Linked DNA regions of Homo sapiens: region 2 is linked to region 1. Evidence: fine-mapped expression QTL. A gene starts in region 1. The other region holds a variant in brackets. All regions are shown on one strand. Distances are between the middles of the regions.

Region 1 (12,205 bases):
GGAAATGAAAACAAGCTGTAAAGAAAACAAACTTTATGGAAAAGAAAACAAACTAAATTGTAACTCATAAAACAGCCTTGTATAGAAAATGATAAAATCCTACTGAATTTCTTTATTTTCTGCCTATATAAGCAAGACCTTAACTTTTAACTTCGGAGCACTTATTCCATTTCTCTGAAGTCTGTTTCCTGTATGGTCATTCCCAGCTTTTTGCTTGAATAAACTCTTTAAAACTGGATTCTGATCCTTTCAATTATTTCAGGTTGACCATAGCTTAGAGCCATGCTGAGCAAAAGGCTGCCTGAATTTACGAAGCCACTTCTGGGTAGTGACCCTAGGACAGCCTCCTGCCCCCTTACAGCATCTGCTCAGGCTGGACAGCATAGCAGAGTAGGCCCTGTCCTTGTGTGCCCACCACCTGATGGGGGGCTTGAGACCTCAATCCAATGAGGATGTCCACTCTGTCACGTACTCGAGTGGCTACTGGTCTCTCCATTACAGTGTTTCAAACTGCTCCAGCCTGCCAAGCTAGATTAGACAAGACGTGCTCATGTAATTTAATGACCTGTGAGGGTGGGGTGGGTGAGAGCTCTGCCTATGAAGTATGTTACCTGCCCAGCAGGTAACACTATCTGGTAAGCTATCTGCTGGGCAGAGGATCTGTCCAAACTGACAGCTTCTTACCTGGACATGAGCACTGGCTGACCTCTTTAATCACTTCTGTGTCATCAAGGACACTTCAAGCACAAACCTTTGTGTTCCATCTGGGAGGGAAATTTCCCAAACCTTATACCCAGGTTCATCCACTTCTGAAATAGGATAGGGCACAGTTCTGATCCCCATTGCCACCAACTGGTCACCAGGGAAGACAGCTCCAAAGGTGATGTTGAAGAGTCTTGTCCCAGGGACCGTGTCTGTTGGAAGTTCTCATCTATTACAGCCTGTGGTTTACCGGCAACAGACTCTCCCAGTCTCCCTTAATTAAGTCCTCAGAGCTAAGAGCATCCTGTTTTCTCTTTCCTGTGAGGGGACTAGAAAGGACTAGGGGTGTCTGTGTCCTTTGATAATCTTCTCCCCTTTCCCCCCAAAGATGCTCTTGTCTCTTAGAGTCAATCCTTCTTTAGCCAGTAACTCAGGAACAAGGCCGAGTGAGGAACCACAGGAAGGATGTGATCAGCGAGGGCCATTTTGAGAACATAAGCCCATTCATAAACCCGAGGGCAACCCAGCAGCATCAGTCAAAAATTGCCAGCCATTCCTTATGCAAATAACCACTAACATACTAGCCTCACCATCCCAGGTAAGAGTGCAATTTATCCAGCTTTGTCCCTTTGTATGTTGGCTTAAGTAGCGGCTGAACACAAAAAAATAAGCTCGCATGTGAGGGCTAACCACAATCTTCTTTGTGTAGATTATAGGCTCATGGAGGTCAAAAGAATCCTTACTACTGTTGTCTCTCCTCAGGACCGAAAGTTATTCAATCACATTAGAGTCTGAATAATAGTTTTTTTTTTTCTTTTTTTCTTGGAGACGGAGTCTTGCTCTGTTGCCCAGGCTGGAGTGCAGTGGCATGATCTTGGCTCACTGCAAGCTCTGCCTCCCGGGTTCAAGTGATTCTCCTGCCTCAGCCTCCTGAGTAGCTGGGATTACAGGCGTGTACCACCACACCCAGCTAATTTCTGTATTTTTAATAGAGATGGGGTTTCACCATGCTGGCCAGGCTGGTCTCGAACTCCTGACCTCAGGTGAACTGCCTGCCTCAGCCTCCCAAAGTGTTGGGATTATAGGCATGAGCCACTGTGCCTGGCCTGAATGATAGTTCTAAAGGAAGGTCTATATCATGTTTTTAAGCATTAATTGGATGATAGGCTAGAAAGTTGATGTTCTGAAGCTTTTACTTCTAAATATCAAGATCACACTTTTGACAGAACTCTGAATGCACTTACCTAGCCCTTAGTTACAGGCTACAAGTGATCAGAACTCAAACTGAATCAGTCTATGGGCATATTGAGGCCTAAAGGTAGAAGCTGGCCCAGATGGGATGGGCTGTACTTGCTAAAACTTGAGCCCTTATGCCAAGTCAGTATTCCTGCTGTACACACTAAGACCTACCAGGCACTCTCCACGTGGTCCTCTTTGGGGCTTCGTTCACACCAAAGGATCATCCCAATCCTGCAAAACTTCAACGGAAGTGGCAGGGAACATAGTAATACTGAAGCTTGTGGGCATGAAAGGAGTTCTGTTTTGACCACCATCAACTTGGTCACATGCCAATCAGTGTCTGACCACGTGTGCTCCAAGAATAGGTGGATGCTATAGCTTGCACCAGATACCATGATGTCACTCTATGAGAAACAAAGAGGCAGCAGATGAGAGGTGTGCTGTGGATGAGGCACTTTGCCAACTGCCTTCCCTAGAAAACCATAGCTGGCCAGCCAATCGGGATTGAGACAAACTTCTAGCTGGAGTTACAGCTGTGATGTTATACCACCCCATGAGATCACACCTCAGTCCTACCCAGGGGCACTCTTTAGAGAGAGGCAGGTATTGAGTTATATTAAAACCTAGAGAAGATGATACAGGAGTTGTTTGAGATGAAATAAACTTCCTATAAGTAAGACCAGATGCCTAAATCCTGAAAACATTCATCTATTTGCTCCCACATTAATCTATTTGCTCCCTGGAACATGACCAGTTTTGATTAGAATTGCTCATAAAGATAAAAGCAGACTTAAGCTATTTGACCAAGCTGAGATTACTTTTGCATCAACCTAATAGTACTCTGTGCTCAGAGCTCACAGATGTCAGTTAAAGAGCATCCTCCTGATCTGTCCCCACTCTCGCTCTCCCAAGGATTAGAGTGGGGTAGATGAAACTCACCTGGTAACTTCAGCCTCATTGCTGGAGTAGGGCTAATGCAGGAACATGCAGGCCCCAGAGCTGTTGAAGCCATAGTCCTGCTTGGCCATGTGGCTCACCAGCATAATCCTCCCTGTGGGATGCTGGAACATCACCTGCCATAGCTTGTAAGTGGTTCCTGAGCCTGACAGACAGGAGCGGGGTTGACCGTGCAATCAAGGAGATCTAAGGAGTTGAATGCAAGGCAGGAAAGAGGCACTTGTTCACTTACTTGTTCTTACAAAAAAGAGGTACTTGCTTCTCTCATCTCCTCTCAAATGCAAGACAACCAGATCTTTTACTAAGTTGGCAAGATAGAACACTAAAAAGGCCCAAAAATCAAGGCTGACCAGAATCTCCCCCCAAAAAATACTAGACACAGGGCTACTGCTTGGAGTTGTGCAGGCTGTACAAGTTACATAGCTTCACTCAGCAACCCTCACTGTCCCTCCACCACCTGGCTCGGTGTGAGCAGGGCTCAGCAGAGAGGACCGGCAGAAGAGGCTCCCAGTTGGAGGCAAGACTGGCAAAGACAGGGGTACCTCCCCAGGTAGGCAAGATGAGACAGGTGGGGCTCCTGTCTCTAGGATCTCAATAGGCTGCAGGGAATTTGAAGGCTGTGATGTTGCTTGCAGGCTACCTGCACACTGTATGGGAGAGTGGTAGGCAGGTCCATGTGGGCTGGCCAGGGATTGCTTGGTCAGTCCTCAGTCCTACCATGGGGAGTGCATCCAGCCAATGCTGACATCCATTGCTCAGGGTCCTGGGCTTCAGAAACCATGGGCAATTTGATCCTCACAGACACCTGCCAACAAGCAAGCTCTTCATGCAGCTCTGTCTCCTGACTCCCCTCCCCTCCTCCAGTTACAAGTGTCTTAGCCTCTCCTTTGGGATCCCTACACCACATGGCTGTAAATGCAGATTCCCAGGACCTGACCCAGCAGATACCCACACAGGTCCAGTTACATCTCCTGGAGCAGGGATGCAGCCTAAGGGTCACGTCATTCATAGGAATGGCCTTTCTTGTTGGGACCTAGGTTCTCATGAGATATCCTAAGGGCCGAGGGCCTGGTTGGGGCACCAGCTTTGATGCTACTTCTGAGCCCAAGGCAACAGCAATGAGCCACGTGGTTGGATGATGACTGTGTACAGCCCACCTACCTTTAGGCCTCTGTTCCTTACCTGCCAACCTAAATCAAGATTTGAAGTTGTATTTTTAATTGACTCATAATAACTGTACATATTTATGGGATACAGTGTGATGTTTACAATGTGTAATGATCCAATCGGGGTAATGCGTATCCATCACCTCAAACCTTTATCATTTCTTTGTGGTAAGAGCATTCAAAATCCTCTTATAAATATACAATATAAATTATAAATATGATAAATATACAATATACTATTGTTAACCATAGTCACCCTACTGTACAATAGAACATTAAAACTTATTCCTCCTAACTGGAATTTTGTACCTTTTAACCTATCTCTCCTACACTTCCCAGCTACCTGGAACCACTATTCTATAGTCTCTACTTCTGAGATCAGCTTTTTCAGATTCCACAAATGAGTGGGGTCACGTGGTATTTGTCTTTCCGTGCCCGGCTTGTTTCACTTAACATAATGACCTCCAGGTTCATCCACGTTGCTGCAAGGGACAGGATTTCATTTTTTAAAAGTGGCTGAATGGTATTCCTGTGTGTGTGTGTGTGTGTGTGTGTGTGTATCTAATCTATTTCACATTTTATCCATTCATCCAACTGAGGGACTGAGAGGGACTTAGGTGGATTCTATATCATTGTGAATAGTGCTGCAATGACCATAGGAGTGCAGAGATCGCTGACATTCTGATTTCCTTTCAACTTAATCAAATCTTGTTTCCCGAAAAGGGTCTATTTCATGGCTGATAAGGCTTAAGTACTAAGGGACTTGGTTCCATGAAAATATCAAGTGTGGCCTCACTTCATAGAACGAAGGAGGTAGTTTCGGCCCCAGGAGACCCAGCATTCTGGCTGGGGTTACCTGTGCTCACCTCCATGTAGTTCCCTTCAGAGAATCTTCCTCGAGGCCCATGTGAAATAGGGACAGGACATGGTATAGTTGTAGGTGGTTTCTTCACCAGCTTCCATGAACCCAGACACCTCGATGTTCACACTGAGGGAAAACCATCTATTATCCTGGAAGAAGGGCAAGAAAGCACCGAAGTCCCAGGGAAGATGAGGCAAGAATCAAATAGGGAGGTTTGGCCCAGTCCCACCTGGCTCAGTGGGACTGAGGTACGGGTCTCTTGTTAGTAGACAGACGGCTGGAGGTGTGCAGGGAAGGGAGCATGATGAAATAGAGCAGGTAGAGATGCACAGAAGAGACTTAGGATTTAGTGATCTGACACTAATCTCACCTCTGTTCTGTTGAAGTGCTCCTGCTAGCTCCCTATACCTTTGAACCCCTAAATCCAGGCATAGCTGGGGCCCCAGTCTCCCCGTCCACCTTGCTGACATCGTAGCCAGGTTAAACCCTGCTATCCCACGAGTCTCCTTCTGATTGCTCTCATCTGCAGTTCTACCCCATGCCTCATCTGAGCGCAAGGTGCCTGCATGCGGCTTCCTCTAAACTCCTACAGCTTTGGGCCTCCTGCCACACTCTGGCAGTTCCCAGCTGTCAGTTACAGCCACCTGGAAATGCTCTTTTTTTTTTTTTTTTTGGTCCACCTTACAAAGGTGATCTATTCATTAGAGGTCAATCCTGGCAAGGCAAAGATGGAACTGTGGTCTCTGTTCTTAGACACAAGAGGACTCTGCAGCTGTGAAGACAGCCTGTGCCAGGCGGAAGCGATCTGCATCCAGGAGGGGATGCTGGATTCCCCAAATGTCCTCAGTGCTGAGGGCAGGGCCAGATTTCTTCCATATGAATCTTGGACACCTGTTTCCTGGGCAATTGAACAAGGGCATCTCAGAAGCTTGCTCACCTGGTTGACCACATGACAGGCCAGTACAGAGGCCCTGAAGGTTTCCCCAGGCGTCTTCAGACAACACGTAGCCACAGCGTGGGGCCACGGGAGGTGCGGCAGCTGGGCATCCAGGGGTCTGCAGTGGAAGGAGTATGGTCACCTGCCAGCCTGGAGGAGCCTGGGGGTCCTCAGAGTCCCTGGCACCAGAATCACTTAAGGCAACGCTGAGGGCTGGTCCCAGGGAAGCAGACCCAGGGCGTCTCATAGCGGGTGGGGACAGGCAGATGGGTGGGAGAACCGATGCTGGGCGGCAGGCTGTGGGGGGCAGCTGCGCGATTCTGTATCCTTGCTGGACCCCAGGCAGGCCAGTCTTTCTGGGTTGGGCGGGCTAGCAGGGAACCTGGGTGGGCTGGGGGTCAGGAGGTTGTTTTGGGGACACCGGGCTGCAAAAACCCATGAGTCCTTCCCCTGTCACCAGTAACTTCCGCGTAGAAGGCTTTGTTGTCTAGAGAGCCTCATCCGGAAGATGCCGGCGGGGCAGCTGCTCTCCACGAAGCCTGTGAAGCCCGGGTCGGTTCGGGTCAGTTAGAGAAGGCGCGGCCCCTCCCTGCTGCCCTGTGGGAACTCCACGTGGGAAACGGGGGGCTTGGCGGGCACTTGCATCCCATCCTTCACTGACCTGGGCGGAGCGAGAGGGTCGCTTGAGCGCCGAGGCCGGGGCCATGGCGACAGGAGCAGAAAGAAGAGCCTAGGCAGGAGAAGCGGGCGGGTTGGGCACGGCGAGGAGGAGCAGGAGGGGGCGGAGAGTGGGACGACCGGGCCACACCTACCCTGCAAGCAAGGGGCCCGCGGCGGGGACTCCACTACTGGGCTGGGGCGGGTCACGCGCTGCCCGGGGCTTTATCCGCGAGGCCTCCCAGGCGCTCCACCAGGTGTGGAAGCCAGGTCAGGTGCGCTCCGCCCGGGTGAGCTGCACTTCACTGCGGTACCCCAGCCTCAAAATTCCCCGTACAGTTCTGGGAGCCCTTCACGGCTATGCCCTAGGTGGACTTCACACTTCTGGGACAAATTAAGAGTGTCCTAGGATTCTTGGATTCAGCTGTTAAAAAGAAAAAATAAAATCTTCGGTTTTTCTTAAAATGTGTTTTAAGCATAAAAAATACATAATACAAATGCACAGTTTAAGGAAGTGATTCTACAGCAATCACATCATGTTCTTGATCACCCACAGCGAAGTATTGCTGGCACCCCTAAACCTCCCCTGCCTCCTCCTCAGTGGTCCCGATTTATTCAACTAGCCTTATCTGTTCTCCCGGTTTTAACATCACTTTCACGGCTGCGGAACTTCTGTGCAGAATTGTTCCCATTCTCTTGAAGGCTTAGGTTGTTTGCACTATTTAGATGTTATAAATAATGCTGAGACAAATATTTGTTCACAAGGATGATTTCCTTAGGATAAATTCTCAGTACAGATGAGGAATTTTCAGCCAATAGCCATCTTTATTTTCAAGGTTCTTGGAATATGTTGCCACAGTTTCCCCCCAAAGAGTTTTGCCAATTAACCATCCATCGGCAAGTCAAATCAATAAGTGCCTACCCTGAGCCAGTCCCAGGGAATAAATGGCAGATCCATGTTTAAGTCTCAGTTCCATCACATCCTTGCCAGCATTTGGTTTTAGTTTTCTGAGATTAAACAAATTTTTTAGTTTGCATCTCTCTGACGTTAGAAAGGCAAAACTCCCACGTGTGTCTGCTTGCTAATTAGAGCATCTTCTAATTGTATGTGTGAACTGTCCATTTACTTCTTGGGATGTTGATGTTGACCTGAGGCACTTGGATGTATTCTTTATGTGGTAGAGATAGTTGCCCTTTGCCATTTTTGTATGTTTTCAGAGCTGAGTGAGACCTGGAATTCACGTGGTCCAAACTCCTTACCATGGGTTGAACCGTGAGCCTCCCTCCGCTCCCCTCCACCCCAATTCTGCCACAAAGATATGTTCATTACCTAACCTTTAGAACCTGTGAATGTGACCTTATTTGGAAACATAGCCTTTGCAGAAGTAATTGGGAGTCTGAGAAGAAGAGTTCATCCTGGATCATCTGGGTGGATCCTAAATCCAATGTAAGTGTTCTTTTAAGAGAAAGGCAGAAGGAGACTTGGGATAGAAGAGTGGACAGCAGTGATGTGAAGACAGAAGCAGAGACTGGAGTTCTGCTGCCGCAAGCCAAGGAACACCTGCATTCACCAGAAGCTGGAAGAGGCCAGGAAAGATTCCTCGAGGCTTTGGAGGCCCTTTCCACAAGTTGGTGTCAGATTTCTGGCCTCCGGAACTGGGAGAGAATAAATTTCTGTCGTTTGAAGTCACCAAGTTTGTGATGCTTTGTTGCAGAGGGCCTAGAACAGGGATACAGCCTCCATTTTGCAGGTGGGAAGGACATGAGGGCCCAGGCTTATTCAGGGTCATTACTAAGTCCAGAGTTGAGATCCTAACCCAGGGTTCTTTGTCTCCTAGGCCATGAGACCAGGTGGAACATTTTCCCCCAGATGCCTCTCTGGTGTGCAACTGAGACTTCCACGGGGAACTCTGTAGCTGTAGGAATGGAGTGGGTGAAGTGAGCTCACACACTGATGAGCTCAGACCGTGAGTGCAAGGACCTAGGCTCTAGTTCTGGCTCTGCCACTTATTAACCTTGTGCTCTCAAATGAGTTATGTGTGGGCCTCCTAACAGTCTGAATAGCATCCTGTTGCTGCAGCTCCATGGTCTTTGCTTAGTGCCCTTGAGTTGTTGAGATGTGCAGACTTGTTTTACTCCATGGATGCTTTACAAGTGTTGCCTCTTTAGGGGTAGTGGCTACATGAGCAGAAATGGCACCATACTTTCATTTCTATTTGGTGGCTACTTCTCTTGATGCTTTAACTGTTACTCATACCCCTAAATCAGCTAGAGGGATTTGGGACACACCGCCCTATAACATGAAGCCTGTAGAAACTGAGTACTTGGACAGGACAAGAAAAGACAGGGATTTCTTTTCTTTTTTGAGACACAGTCTCACTCTGTTGCCAAGGCTGGAGTGCAGTGGCGCAATCTTGGCTCACTGCAGCCTCAGCCTCCCAGGTTCCAGTGATTCTCCTGCCTCAGCCTCCTGAGTAGCTGGGATTACAGGTGGGCACCACCATGCCCGGCTGATTTTTGTATTTATAGTAGAGTCGGGGTTTCACTGTGTTGGCCAGGGTGGTCTTGAACTCCTAATCTCAGGTGATCCACCCACCTCTGCCTCTCAAAGTGCTGGAATTACAGGTGTGAGCCACTGTGCCCGGCCAAGACATGGATTTCTAAGTGCTGTATAGCTGGGTATGGTCTCATTTAAGGATTCTGCAAAAAGATCTAGTGCTAGCTTGTCCACTGATAGACACTAGCATATGCAACTACTGAACACTTGAAGTGTCACCAGTGTTACTGAGGAACTGAATTTCTCATTTGAATTCATTTAAAATAAAAAATACTGGCTGGGCACAGTGGCTCACGCCTACAATCTCAGCATTTTGGAAGGCCCAGGTGGGAGGATCACTTGAGCCCAGGAGTTCAAGACCAACCTGGACAACATCGTGAGACCTCATGTCTACAAAAAAATAGAAAAAAAAAAAAAAAAAGCTGGGGATGGTGGTGCATGCCTGTGGTCCCAGCTACTCAGGAAGCTGAGGTGGGAGGATTGCTTGAGCCTGGGAAGTCAAGGCTGCAGTGAGCTATGATCTCACCACTGCACTCCAGCCTGGGTGACAGAGCAAGACCCTATCTCCAAAAACAACAACAACAACAACAAACCCAAAGCCAACAATTCAGTTACTAAAAAATTTTAAAGTACGGCAGTGGAGTGGGTGAAATGAACTCACACTTCATGTGAACACTTTGTTTGGAACAACAAATTCACATTTAAAGTATGTGAATCTGCCACTGCAAAGTTTATGAAATCTAAATACAGATCAAGTATTTTCAATGAAAATTTAGCACCCAAACTGAGATGGGCTGTTAAGTGTTAAATATATACCAGATTTTTAAGAGTTAGTATAAATAAAAGAATGTAAAGTACCTCTAACATTTTCATATTGTGTCAAGATGATAATATTTTAGATATACTGGGTCAAATAAAATAATGTTAAACAATTTCACCTGCTTCTACCACTTACTCGCTCTGTGGTTTTGGGCAATTCCCCTAAACTCTCCAGGCCTCTGTTTCTGCTTATCTAAAGTCACTGAGTGGAAAGGCCCTGCAGGCTCATCTCAGGCTGTGGCTGAGGGAGGATGAGGACACTTAGTGGGAGGGGTAGTTCTGCAGCCATACTGTAAGGCTGGGTCTTGGGAGGGGTCACAGCCCCTAGTACAACAGGAATGCCCACCCCCACCGCTAGCATGAGGGTACATCTTCCCAGGGCTTGAAAGTAAGATTTACTTGACACACTCTGCCTAAGAATTGGCTCTGAGCTTGGTTTGTTGGTTCTGTCGAAGGTAGTAACAACCGCATCCTTCTAGCTTCTTGAGCCCTTCCTTCCTCTCCACTGAGCTTCTGAGCTGGGTGGGCCTAGGACCCTCCCTGTCCTCTGTCCCTGGGCTCCAGGGCCCTGCCTTGGACCTGCCTGAGTAAGGGAACAAGTAGAGGGGCCTGCCCTGCTCTTCTCTGGGCTTTCCCAGTCTTCTCTAGGCGGCTGGAGGGGTGGGGATGAGGGCAACAGGGGACAGCAGCTTCTAGGATGGATACTTGGGGTTCCAGGCTGGATAATTGTGCTGGTGGTGGGGGGATCGGTGTGAACTTGACCCTGAGGCAGTCAGCAAGGGGCCCTGGGCAGCTTGCACGTGTATGTTTTGGTGTGGGGGTGTGATCAGGTCTGTGTGAGAGGAAGGGCAGAGGCTTTGCAGAACAGCAGAGGCAGATGTCTCTGATTTTGATCACTTAGTTCCACATACCTGGGGCTGCCTGAGATACGGTGCAGCTGTTTTCTGTCGTGCTGATATGCAGACAAAGCTAAAGAAGAGCCCGCGACCACTGAGCACCTGTTACGGGAAAGGTACCACGTGGGGAGCTTTAAGCACCTGCCATCATCGAATCTCCGTGGTAACCCAAGAGAGGAAAGGCCCCATAGAGAATTTCCCGAGGCTGCAGAGCTGGGCGGGGCAGAGATCGGATTTGAACCCAGCTGTCTGATATCAAGGCTTGGGGTCTTGAAGACAAATGGCTTACCCAGGGTGGGGTGGCTCACGCCTGTAATCCCAGCACTTTGGGAGGCCCCAGGCGGGCGGATCACTTGAGGCCAGGAGTTTGTGACCAGTCTGGCCAACATGATGAAACCCCATCTCTACTAAAAATACAAAAATTAGCTTGGTGTGGTGGTAGGTACTTGTAATCCCAGCTACTCGGGAGGCTGAGGCAGGAGAATCGCTGGAATCTGGGAGGCAGAGGCTGCAGTGAGCCGAGATCGCGCCATTGCACTCCAGTGTGGGCGACAGAGTGAGACTCCATCTCAAAAAACAAAACAAAACAAAACCACACACACACAAAACACAAACAAACAAAAAACAAGTTGCTCACCCTTAGCTGCACGTGTCCTCAGAAGCGGTTCACTATAACCCCAGTGGCCCTGGCTTCAGGGATGGGAATCGGGGAGGGGCCAGTCCTGGAGCAGAGCCTGGCCTGGAGCCCAGGTGGCGCTGAGTTCGCTCTGCTCCTGACGCCAGTCCCTGGACCCTGCGGTGTGTGTTCCCAGGGCGGGCAGGAAGGCTCTTAGAGGGTGAGCCAGGCTGTCCACAGGCGGCCTGAGGGGTCTGAATGGGAGGGCCAAGCGGCCTAACTCATGCGCGGTTTGCTCTTTAAACAGCTGCGCAGGTAGTCAGATGGCCTGTGAAGGTGGAGAAGGCCTTGCTGTCCCTCCTGGGACCGGGAGTCTCAACTTGCAGTCCAGAGGACATGGGACTCAAATCGGACTCGGCCACCGCCTCCTGGCCTGAGGCTGGCGGATCAGACGCTGCTGCCACCCGCCTTTGGGCTCGAGCAGGTCATTTTCCACATGGCCACTGGGTGTCGCCCTCGCTCCACGAGTGGGCCGCCCTCGCCTCTGTCCCCGGCTCCTTGAGCGCCTACTGTGTGCTGGCCTGTCCCGCGCGGGGAGGTGGCCCCTTGGCCAGGCTCTGTTCTGAAGGCAGATGGGCCTGACTCAGCCAGAGATGGTGCTGTTGCTCCCTGTAAACGCAAGCTGTTTGCAGACAACAGCAGGATGTATCCCGACTGTGTAAGAGCATGCTTTTCTGTGGATGGTATGGTTTGGCTCTGTGTCCCCACCCAAATCTCGTGTTGAATTGTAATCCCTA
Region 2 (12,205 bases), 82 kb after region 1:
TCCTAGCCATTTCTTTTGGAGATGGAAGTGAAACTCTCCCAACTTTCTGTTTCATAAATAAAGGAGAGCAGAGACATAACTCTTTTTTAAGAAGCATAATAATTAAAAATTACACTGTATTCTGTAATAACCACTTAAAGGACCAAGACAGGGAACAAAAAGCAAAAGAGAGGGAAATAAAGAGGAGAGAGGCACAGCAAGAGAGTAGAAGGAACTGGATCTACCCAGTTCAATTCAACCGACATTTACTAAGGCTAGAGAAGATTCATGTTCTCAGAGCAACGTAATAGTCATGATTGTTGATATGGTTTGGCTCTGTGTCCCCACCTAAATCTTATCTCAAATTGTAATTTCCACGTGTCAAAGAAGGGACCCGTAATCCCCATGTGTCAAGGGATTGGTTATGTGTCATGGGGGTGGTTACTCCGTGCTGTTCTTGTGATAGTGAGTGAGTTCTCACAAGATCTGATGGTTTTATAAGCGTTTGGAAGTCCCTCCTTTGTTCTTCCCTCTCCTGCCACCTTGTGAAGAAGGTGACTGCTTCCCTTTTTGCCATGATCGTAAGTTTCCTGAGGCCTCCCCAGCCATGTGGAACTGTGAGTCAATAAAACCTCTTTCCTTTATAAATTACCTAGTCTTAGGGAAGTTCTTTATAGCAGTGTCAAAATGGACTAATACAAATGTAAATATACATATTTTTTTTTCTTGCAACTACAGTTGTCCCTTGGTATACTCAAGGACTGATTCCAGGACCCTGGAGTATACCCAAATCCACATATACTCAAGTCTCTCCGTTGGCCCTATGGAACCTCCATATACAAAAAAATTGGCCCTTTGTATATGCAGGTTTCATATCCTGTGAATACTCTTATTTTCAATCTGTGTTTGGTTGAAGAAAATTCCACATGTAAGTGGAACCACACAGTTCAAACCCATGTTGTTCACGGGTCAACTGTATAGGCTTTCTTTGAGGACATCAGTCTAAGGACTGCAGTTTTCTCTTGGACCAGGGCTACCTTCTGTTGTTATACAATTCCTGATGGAGTGGGACCACTTTAGGTTCTGTGTGAGGTTGATCAGATTTCTAGCCTGGTCATGGGGGAACTTGTACAAATGCTTGTCACCCCTGGACAAGTAGTCACGGCCAGGGAGTTGGATGAACATAGAAGCTATTGTTGCTGCTTTCCCCAATAAGGTTTGGAAAGGCAGACATTTGAAAAATCCTGCTCTGTTCCATGGTGGAGAAACTGGCAGACACTACCTTGGCTAGGGGACAAAGTTCACATCGTGAGAGGTAAGTCGTGTTGACAGCGTGTAGCCTCATTGGCTGTGGAGAGGAAAGCACTTCACTTCCATTATATTTTTTCTCCAAAACCCATAGCATCAGTCTAATCATGAGATAAACATCAGACAAGCCCAAACTGAGGGGTGTGCTACAAAATATCTGACCAGGGTGTCCCAAAACTCTCAAGGACATAAAGAGCAAGGAAAGTCTGGGAAACTGTTACAGACCAGAGGAACTTAAGAAGACACAAGGCTTTTTTGCAAGGTGAAACCTGAATTGGATCCTGGAACAGAAAAGGGACGTTGGAAAAACTGGTGAAATCTGAAGGAAAAAAAAGCTAATTGTAGCCAATCAATGCTGGTTTCTTAGTTTTGATGAATATATTGTGGAAATGCTGGTTTCTTAGTTTTGATGAATATATTGTGGAAATGTAAGAATATTAACAACAGGGAACATTGGCAAACTCCATGTACTACCTTTGCGCTTTTTCTGTAAGTTTAAAGTTATCTCAAAATAAAAACATTTATTAAAAACACAAAGCAGGTGAGTCTGCATGTCCCCGTGGTGCAGCATCTAGCCTTTTGCGTGCCTCTCACTTTTCCACTCCTTACAGGATAAAGAGGACTCTCCTTTCCCTAGAAGTCCCCTTAGCAGGACTCCATTATTGAGGGTACCAAGTCAGTTTGCTCTTGGAAACATATGGCTTCTTTTCTTAGAAAACAGATGTAAAGTCTGGGTGCAGTGGCTCACGCCTGTAATGCCAGCACTTTGGGAGGCTGCGGTGGGCAGATCATGAGGTCAGAAGATCTGATCACGAGGTCAGGAGATTGAGACCATCCTGGCTAACACGGTGAAACCCTGTCTCTACTAAAAATACAAAAAATTAGCTGGGCTTGGTGGTGGGTGCCTGTAATCCCAGTTATGGTAAGCTGAGGCAGGAGAATCACTTGAACCCAGGAGGTGGAGGTTGCAGTGAGATAAGATCATGCCCCACTGCACTCTAACCTGGGTGACAGAGCGAGACTCCATCTCAAAAAAAAAAAAACAAACAAAAAAAGGTGTAAAATGTCTCATTAGGAAACTCTCATATACAAACCTCATGATTAAATGGTTTACCAAACTGGATTTGGATGGATAGAGTGTCAATAAATCAGCAATAGGAACCTGAATTTGTCCTGGGAATTAATTCTTGGTTGTGGCATTCCGGTAGAATCAAGTGCCCACATGAATCCATTCAGCCTTTCCCTGAGAGGAGAAAAGCGAAGATCGGAGAGGCAGAGGGACAGACTTCCTAAGACAATTGACCATTCCTTACAGAGCACATGTTGTGTGCCCAGCCTTCTGGCGGGCCTCTGAGGATGGGCTTAATCTCACAGGGGGTGGAGGCAAAGGACAGGGCATTGTAGCCTCTGAAGAGGCTACGGAGGGCCTGAGTCTGTGGTGGGGAGACTCGGCGGCCCCGGGGCAGTGCCTCTGCTGGCTGTCTGCCTGTGTTCCCACAGCAGCTGGGAACACAAACCAAGAAACTCCTCAGGGTTGCTCCTGTCTGGACATCAGAGAGCTCTTCTGCAGCTAGGGTGACCAGCTGTTCACATTCGCTTGGGATTGAGGACTTTCCTGCGGTGTGTGACTTTTGGTGCTAAAACTGGAGACTCCCAGGCAAATTGGGATGGTTGGTCACCCTACCTGCAGCTGATTGGGCTTAGAAGGAGCTACAATTAATGGGTCTGTGGTAGCATTGGTTTTTATTGTGACACCCCCCCTGCGGCTTGTTAATCAATGGAAAAGAAGCTGGAAATCATCATGGTATGGGACTCTGGTTCTTGGCCAAAAGGGAATCCCCATGGCCAATGCCTGTAAACAAACAGATGCTCAGATATGGCTCTCCTCCACCTGGCAGTGACATTGAAGCAAGAAGAGGTTGATTCCATGGAGCTAAGTGACACCTGCTATCAAGGGACGGTCTCATTATCTCCCGTCGAGACAGTGCTGGGCTCCGGTCACCAGAGGCAGGGACACATTTGTGTTGTCCTTTAAAGTGACTTCATGGATCTCAACCCATGAATGACCAAACATCCCTGAATCAACGGCCTGTCAAAGGCTGTAACAGGCATTGGACCAGAGTTGAGGGATGGGGGAAGCTCTGCATGACACCTGGAGTGGGGACGGATGTGGTCTCAAATAGCTCCAACAGGGAGGAGAGTATGGTCTGTACACTCGGGAAAGTGTGGTGCGGTAGGAGGGGATGCTCCCTCTGCACCGCTCACCATCTTCTCTCTAACTTGCTATTTTCTTTAGTTCCTGAGGTTTTTCATTGAACCACTATGCTCTTAGGCACCCAAACCAAATGCTGGGTATTCTCTTTGCCACTCCCTGTTTTCAGAGTGCAGCTCTGGCTGACCAATTCTCCCACCGTAAGACCTCTCTCCCATCTGTTTCTGCTGTCAGCATCCTAGCTCAGAGCCCACCAGGGCCACCCCAAAGCTCTCCCTGCTCCCTGCTTTCACCCTCCCTCTCTATCCTCTACCAGATCCATCTTCTCAAGGACCACCTTTGTCATACCCCCCATGCATCAATGTCATCTGACATCCTCCTGACAAAGCCCAACTTCTGGCCCTCCCTGGCCCCCAGCCTGCCTTCCTACCCCACTCTCCTTGCTCCCCATCAGCACCAGGTGTTCTGGGACTGAGCCCTCCATTCCTTGTTGATGCTGCTTGTTTTCCTGCTTCCCACCCTTGCTCATGCTGTTGCCTCCTTCAGAATGACCCGTGCTGGGGAAATCTTCATGATGGCTTTCCTGATTTCCTGGAAAAAGTGTTTCTCCCTGCTCTGGGCCTTTCCCCCAGCATGGGTGGGCCTGACTTTCAGGCTCTTTCTGTGCCCAGTTATTTACATACTGACCCACCCGCTGAGCAGGCCTCCTTGGAGGCAGGACAGCCCAACTCTAGGCACCAGTATAGACACTGGACACTGTACTTAGGGTCAGTGGGTCACTGAGAGAATCAAATGTGATCAGTCCCCAGTGGTATTTCTTGGAGTCCTTAGGCTCTCTGGGTACAGCCATGTCCAGCATGGGCTTTTTAAAATGGCCAGTGACATCTGCGTGGCTTGTGATGTGTCTTGTACCCTGTGTAGGATTAGGCGTTTTCATTTTTAGGCCTGTCAAGGGGAGACCTTGGAGGGCTGGGGCACTGGGCAGTGAGACCTGCAAGAAGGCTCAGGCTCCTATCCTCACCCCCAGCCAACCCTTAGAGCCTGTATTTGGGTTAGGAAGGCACAGGTCTGGTTACTGTCCGGATGGGGTTGGGCTTATGTGTTGGTAGTGGCTCAGGAGATACTGGACAAGCGACTGTCTGCTTTGGGGTAGCTGTATCCCTAAGCGAAGCCACAAGCATCTTGGCAGAATAATTTTATGATCTGGGAGTATCCTTAATTTTCTTTTAAATTTATTTTTAGAGACAGGGTCTTACTCTGTCACCTAGGCTGGAGTGTAGCAGCAGGATCATAGCTCACTGTGATCTCAAACTCCTGGGCTCAAGTGATCCTCCTGCCTCAGCCTCCAGAGTAGCTAGGAATACAGGTGTGCACCCCCACATCAGCTAATTTTTTTATTTTTATTTTTGTAGAGGGGGGGTCTTGCTATGTTGCCCAGGCTGGTCTCAAATTCCTGGGCTCAAGTGATCCTCCTACCTCGGCCTCCCAAAGTACTGAGATTACAGGCATAAGCCACCATGCCCAGCACCAGGAGTATCATTAAGAAGCAGCAGACCTTTCATTCAGCCAGAAACAAATGAGAAAATACTAACCATGACAGAAATAAACTCTTACTTCCAAAAGGAGCATTTTTTACCCCATCTATGACTTGTGGAATAATTTTAACCCCTATTTACCAGATGAGGAGACTGGGACGGGGACGCATGAAGGGCCTGGCTCCGGGACTTATAGGTGAGAGCTCCTGCTTTGTCCCTCCTAGAACATCATTAAGAAATAATCCCAGCTTAAGCAGCACCTTGATGAGTGACCTTGCGATTGGAAGGCAGATTCTGTTGCAGGAACGGTAGCCTCTCTGCACTCAAAGGAGATGTGTGTGTGAAGGAGAAAGAGAGGAGAAGGGGTGTCTGTGGGGCTGATTTGAAGTTTGAACAGCATCACGCAGCTGGAAGCCAAGGCAAGGCATTTCATCCACAGGGATCATCTGCATCTTTCCTGCTATCTGATGACTCAGGAGCATCCATGCGCATTTACCAAGTACCTGCCCAGTGTCAGGTGTATCAGGGAGTGAATTTGGCTGCTTGAAAAGAAAAAGTGGAATAGTTGGTTTAAACAAATAGGGCTTATTTTTCTCAGTTGAGCAAGAGGCCCAGGGATAGAGTGCGGGGCTGCTGCAGTTGTCATGCAGTGTTCCTGGGTAGTTTTCATCCTCAGGGTTTCTTCGTGGGTGGAAAGTGGCAGCTGCCTATCCATGTCACCTGCAGGAAGATGCCAAAGGAAATTCATGGAGGAAGGGGTACTCCTGTGTCAGGGAAGGGAACTCTGTTTACAAAGTGCAAATCGACTCCCACTGTGATCGGAAGGTGGTTTTTAGCAGGATGCCCACCACGCGGAGCCATGCTGAGTTGTTGATTCTGCCTCCGCAGTCGCCCTGCATGCTTCCTAAGGTTCTCTTGCTCTGGGAAGCTGGGTTTGCCCGGTGGCGACCCACTCTCCTTCCTGGCTTCCAGACCTATATGGTCCCTGAATCTCACTCCACACGTGGCCCTGACACAACTTACCTCTGCCTTTCGTTCCTGAGACTAATTGCCCCATTTTTCCCCTCTCTCCTGCTTGTGATTCGGCCCCTTAACCAGATCCCAAGGTTGAGATTTGAGTGCTCCCTTAACCATCCAGGCACTGCCCGGCTATTGACTTGGGCTTCTTCACTCACCCACACACTTGATCCTGAGAGCTGGGCCTGAGTAGGTGTGGGGGCAAAGGAAAAACAAAGATAAACCTGACTCAGGCCTTGCTCTGCAGGTCCCCAGTCAAGGCTGGCTTTGCCCTCACCTATGCTTGAATTCTAGCAGAATCTGGTCGGAGTCATGTGCTTGGTCAGGAAGGGATGAGACAGCTTCTGCACTTTGTGCAAAGGGCTTAGAGGAGAATCCAGACATTCCTCTTCGCTGGGAGTAAACTAGCCACCTGGGGACAAAGAGCAAATCATAACAGGAGTCCGGGGAAACCCAAATATGCCTCAAAGGGGACTGGAATGACAGTTTCTTCTCCCTGGAGGCAGGCCTGAGATAAACTGAAGACTAGCAGTTTTTGCTTACTGAAAAAGAG[G/A]AACATGACTCAGTCCTTGGGAGGCACTCATGGCTCAGAAAGTGCCAACTCATCCCAACCAAGCATTCTCCTCTAAAATGGCCATTTCTCTCCTCTCTACCTGCCCTACTCTTAGCCATGCATCAAGGCTTGCTCAAATATGCCCTTCGATGGGAAGCTTATTCTTACACTGCAGGCGAATCAAACTCTTCCTTTTCTGTGCTTTCTTGGCACTTTTGAAAATAGTATCTTGATTGTAATTTATCTTTTATCATAATTGGGCTTGCTGATATGCCCTCCCACTGGGCTTCTTGAGGTCAAGAGCTATGTCTTTTTCATCTCAGTGTCCCTGGGCCCTGGCTTGAGCCTGACACAGAGGAGGTGCTCAGTGAAAGATGTAGCTTTTAACAAAATCTAATGTTACTGCCAGGGGTTGTCTGTTAGCTTTCCTTCATCTACAATCTCCAGGGTTGCATTCCGGCTGCTAGCTACCCTGACCCCCTCTCCACTTGCTCTGGACCTGCCATCACCACAGCCCAAAGCTCTGGGTTGCTAACAGCCTCTGTCCCCCACAGAGCCATTAGTAGGTGTCCTTTGGGGCAGAGGGCCCTGTGCCCAGCTCTGCAGGCCTAACGACACCATTCCTGAATGGCGACATGGATGTGTTTACCCAGCCTCTGTAACCTGACATGCAGCAGTCCTAATTGTCCTCTGCGTGAACCTGGTGCAGTATTTTAGTGTGTCCTATAGAATAATATTGAGAGAATGAACAAATCAGTGGCAGAACCTTCTGAGATTTGCCTAATTGCAACTCAAATTGTTCCCATATTGGAAATTACATGGCTAAGATGCCTTTTGGGGAACTGAATATTAGGAGCCCAGGAAGGTCAGCCAACAATGAGTTGCCAGACTTTTTCTCCATGAACTCTTACCGAGACATTTTCCTGCAATGAGACATGTATAGGTTGACTCAAAACAGATTTCACAATCACTTTATCCAATTTTGGACGGCTTAATTCGGCAGTTCACGTAACCCTCTTTAATCAGCCTCACGTTCAGGGGTTGTTGTTGTGGCTCAAGCACTTTGACGGGTAGATGGCACTCAGGTCAGTACCCCTAAATGGGGAGGCTCTGGCCAGTCACTGCCTTGGCTCTGGGAGCCTGGACTATATTTGGAACTCTTAGGGGCCCTGGGTCATTGTGAAGTCTCCAGCGAGGTAGGAAACCTGTGATTCTTGTTCCCAGGCGTGCTTTATGCCCTGAGTGGGATGCCCGGGGATGATGAAAGTGAAAGTTTTGTGTGTGTGTGTGTGTGTGTGTGTGTGTGTGTGTGTTAAGATTGTTCCAGTTTTGACACTGTTGTGAGGGGTATCGAGGTCTCTCAGGATTTTTGACTCTGACATTGAATAACAATAGGCTGGCTATCTGCCTAGTTCAGCACCCTCAGGGAAAAAGTAATTTCCTGTCTTTCCCTTTATGGCATTGGGGAAGCCATATGCCTGGACTTAGATTGGGAGGTAAGTCCAATTGCTGATATCTACCTTGTCACCTCTCAGGGGTTGAGGAAGTTGCAACCTCTACCAGGGAGACTTTTTTGTCTGGCACTTTAACTTTGCAAGCCCTTAGTTGTTGCTTGTTCCATGGGTAATCACAGCCATCCTGTGAGAGGGCCCCGGGAAAAACGATTCCTCTTTTACATATAGTGTAAACTGAGGTCTGGGCAGCTCAAGTGATTGGTCCAAGGTCATTCGGGGAGTTCATGGCAGAGTCAGGTCAGAACCAGCCTCCTACTCTCAGTGCGTGGGTCTCTTTTGTTTTGTTTCTTTATTAAGGAATCTGCCTCTCATTTGCTTGGATGAAACACTGTTGAGCAGTTTGGGCTGTGCTGGTTCTGAAGAGTGAAGCAGCATTGCAGGGGTGAGTGGCGTCATCTGCATATCACCCTCAAACCATCCCCGAGTGTGGCCAGCCCGCTCCTGGGTATCTTCCCAGTTACCTGAATGTGGCTGTCGACTCACTCTCCACCTAAACCCTTCAGGTTCTTGCTCTGTGGAGAGGTAGGGCAACCCTGGCTACAGACCAGGTATGTTCAGGGCCCAGGTGGGGAAGGAGAAGGCCACACTTGCCAGGTACTATTCTGGTTGCTTTGCATGAAGAGCTGCAGTCAACGCAGTCAGATTTTGTGAAAAAGAAAGCCACTGTTGCCTGGTTGGTGGGAGGGATGTGTGTGCGTGTGTAGGGTAGCATGTGTGTGGCATGTTATGTGTGTATGGTGTTTACAGTGTGTGTAGTATGTATATGTAACGTGTGTGGTATGTGACTGTGGTGTGTATATGTGTATAGTGTGTGTGTTGTGTGTATGGGGTATGTGTGTGGTATGTGTTTGTAGTGTGGGTTGTATGTGTGTGGTATGTGTTTGTAGTGTGTGTATGGGGTGTGTGTGTGGTATGTATTTGTAGTGTGGGATGTGTGTGTGTTGTGTATTTGTAGTGTGGGGTGTATGTGTGGTATGTGTTTGTAGTGTGGGGTGTGTGTGTGGTATGTGTTTGTACTGCCCCCATGACTCAAATTATCTCCCACTGGGTCCCTCCCACAACACGTTGGAATTATGGGAGTACAATTCAAGATGAGATTTGGGTGGGGACACAGAGCCGAACCATATCATTTTGCCCCTGGCCCCACATACCATATGTGTGTGTGGTATGTGTAGTGTGGGTTGTGTGTGTGTGGTATGTGTTTATAATGTGTGTATGGTGTGTGTGTGTGTGTGTGTGTGTTTGAAGGGTAGTGGTCAGGGAAGGCTTCCTGCAGTGGGGGTGGATTTTGAGTGAGCATTCTCAGCAGGCAGGGTAGTGATGGGGACAAGGGAAGGTGTGGGGGCAGTGGGGGCAGGGAAGGCAAATGGCTGGGGCTGTATCTGACTGATACTGAGGGGCCTGTTAGGAGTCCATGCCAGGGAGGTGAGCTGCTGTTGTCCTGACCAAGCCCTTTGCAGGCGCCTGACTTCCCCGTTGCAGCAGTAGAGCCAGGTCTTTTGGCAAGTGCTCTTCCTCCAAACACTGCCTTCCAAAGACAGTGATCTGACTCCAAACATCTGCAGAATGGAAAAAGAGAACAGAGGCAAATGGGATGGGCGGGGCAGTCATATCTTAAAACTCCAAAATGATCTCCTCTGACTCCATGTCTCACATCCAGGTCACGCTGATGCAAAAGGTGGTTTCCCATGGTCTTGGGCAGCTCGGCCGCTGTGGTACAGCCTCCCTCCCAGCTTCTTTTATGAGCTGGTGTTGAGTGTCTGTGGCTTTTTTGGGCACGTGGTGCAAGCTATAGGTGGATCTACCATTCTGGAGTCTGGAGGATGGTAGTCCTCTTCTCACAGCTCCACTAGGTGGTGCCTCAGTAAGGACTCTGTGTGGGGGCTCCAACCCCACATTTCCCTCCTGCACTGCCCTGGCAGAGGTTCTCCATGAGAGCCCTACCCCTGCAGCAAACTTCTTCCTGGACATCCAGGTATTTTCATACATCCTGTGAAATCTTGGCAGAGGTTCCCTAACACCAATTCTTTACTTCTGTGCACTGGCAGGCTCGACATCACTTGGAAGCTGCCAAGGCTTGGGGCTTGTACCCTCTGAAGTCATGGCCCGAGCTCTATGTTGGCCCCTTTCAGCCATGGCTGGAGCAGCTGTGACACAGGGAACCAAGTCCTTAAGCTGCACACAGCAAAGGGACCCTGGGCCCGGCCCAGGAAACTATTTTCTTCTAGGCCTCTGTGCCTGTGATGGGAGGGGCTGCCTTGAAGACCTCTGACATGCCCTGGAGACAGTTTCCCCATTGTTTTGGGGATTAATATTGGGCTCCTCGTTAAGCAAATTTCTGCAGCAGGCTTGAATCTCTCCTCAGAAAATGGATTTTTCTTTTCTATCGCATTGTCAGGATGCAAATTTTCCAAACTTTTATGCTCTGTTTCCCTTTTAAAATTGAATGCTCTTAACAGCACCCAAGTCATCTCTTGAATGCTTTACTGCTTAGAAATTTCTTCTGCCAGGTACCCTAAATTATCTCTCTCAAGTTCAAAGTTCCACAGATCTCTAGGGCAGGGGCAAAAATGCCATCAGTCTCTTTGCTAACAGTTCCCAAGAAGTTCCTCATCTCCATCTGAGACCCCCTCAGCCTGGACCTTATTGTTCATATCACTATCAGCATTTTTGTCAAAGCCATTCAACAAGTCTCTAGGAAGTTTAAAACTTTCCCACATTTTCACGTCTTCTTCTGAGCCCTCCAAACTTTTCCAGTCTCTGCCTGTTACTCAGTTCCAAAGTTGCTTCCACATTTTCAGATATCTTTTCAGCCACACCCCACTCTACTGGTACCAATTTACTGTATTAGTCTGTTTATGTCTTCTGATAAAGACATACTAGAGACTGGAAAGAAAAAGAGGTTTAATTGGACTTACAGTTCCACATGGCTGGGGAGGCCTCAGAATCATGGCGGGATGGGGGGCAAAAGGCACTTCTTACATGGCAGCAGCAAGAGAAAATGAGGAGGATGCAAAAGCAGAAAGCGCAGATAAACCCATCAGATCTCGTGAGACTTATTCACTACCACAAGAACAATATGGGGGAAACTGCCCCCATGATTCAAATTATCTCCCATTGGGTCCCTCCCACAACATGTGGGAATTATGGGAATACAATTCAAGATAAGATTTGGGTGGGGACGCAGCCAAACCATATCATTACTATACCCTGGGAGAGTTACTAGCAGGAAGAGACAGTCCACCACAAAGACACCTCCATTCTGGATGGGAAGACTGAATCTGCTAGTACAAAAAGTTTGCACAGTTTTGCAGCTAACTTCCATGACTCTCATTTCTCATGTGAGAATCCTCTACTTCTCGATCTTGACATATCCAATGACCTCTGAGGCTCACCCGGTTAATCTCAGAGCCTTGACCTTTTCCTGTGGCTCTTTAGAATGAGAGAAGAGCTGAGTGCAGTTTGCACTCTCCTTCACATCTTTATCAGTAAACATGCAGGAAGCATCACCGTGTCTAGGCACCACGGAGGCCACTGTGCCCCAGGCAGACACAGGTCTTCCCTCTATAAGCCTGAGGTGTGGCAAGGTCAGCAGCCTGGAGGAGTGAGAAGCAGGGTGTGAGGGTGTAGGGTGAGGCCAGAGAACTGAAGAGGACCCCTACCCTAATCCAGGAGGTCACGAAAGGCTAGCATATCACCAGGGAGCCCAGAAAAGGGGCAGAGTGTTTTGCAGCAGTGGGAACAGCAGAGCAAAAGTGCCTGGACAAGAACAGGCATGGTGGGTTCAAGAAACTGAGAGATTTAAACAGCTGGAGCTCTGGGGGCCAGGGAGAGAGTGGTCTATATGAAGTTGGAGAGGTAGGCAGAGAGTACTTTATCCTGTGGGAAGCCCTCTCCTCCATTCCAGTCCCCATCAGAAAGAAGAGCCCATGAAGGTAATGCCAGCTGGCAGTGAGCACCAAAGACAAGGACGAAAAGCTACTGCCTAAATGCACAGGTGATCTGTTGCCATGGGCATTGCCTTGGGCTCCCCAACTACTGGTCCTAAAGCCATGAAGCAGAATCTGTCTATAGGGCCAGCTGGCAT

Direction of the effects. Positions count from the first base shown, and alleles are read on the strand shown. Sizes are in standard deviations (SD) of each study's normalised expression.
In carriers of allele A in region 2, the expression in monocytes after LPS of the gene that starts at base 6,623 in region 1 tends to be lower than with G alone (large effect, 0.91 SD a copy in Quach 2016).

The links. PIP is the estimated chance that this variant, and not a neighbour inherited with it, causes the effect.
Region 2: its variant is the best candidate, but not a certain one, in a credible set for the expression of LINC00954 in monocytes after LPS (Quach 2016, PIP 0.82).

The regions. Positions count from the first base shown.
Region 1 is chr2:19,863,272-19,875,476 of GRCh38, reverse strand. LINC00954 (long intergenic non-protein coding RNA 954) reads right to left here and starts at 6,623. Exons shown (of 10, transcript NR_033875.1): 1 at 6,525-6,623; 2 at 5,864-5,981; 3 at 4,931-5,075; 4 at 2,881-3,084; 5 at 2,113-2,345. RefSeq lists enhancers at 6,862-6,911, 11,466-11,966.
Region 2 is chr2:19,781,045-19,793,249 of GRCh38, reverse strand. No RefSeq gene overlaps it. Among named protein-coding and RNA genes, the nearest start is that of LINC00954, 82 kb to the left of the region's middle. RefSeq lists an enhancer at 5,905-7,104. The variant G/A (reference allele first, on the strand shown) is at 6,605.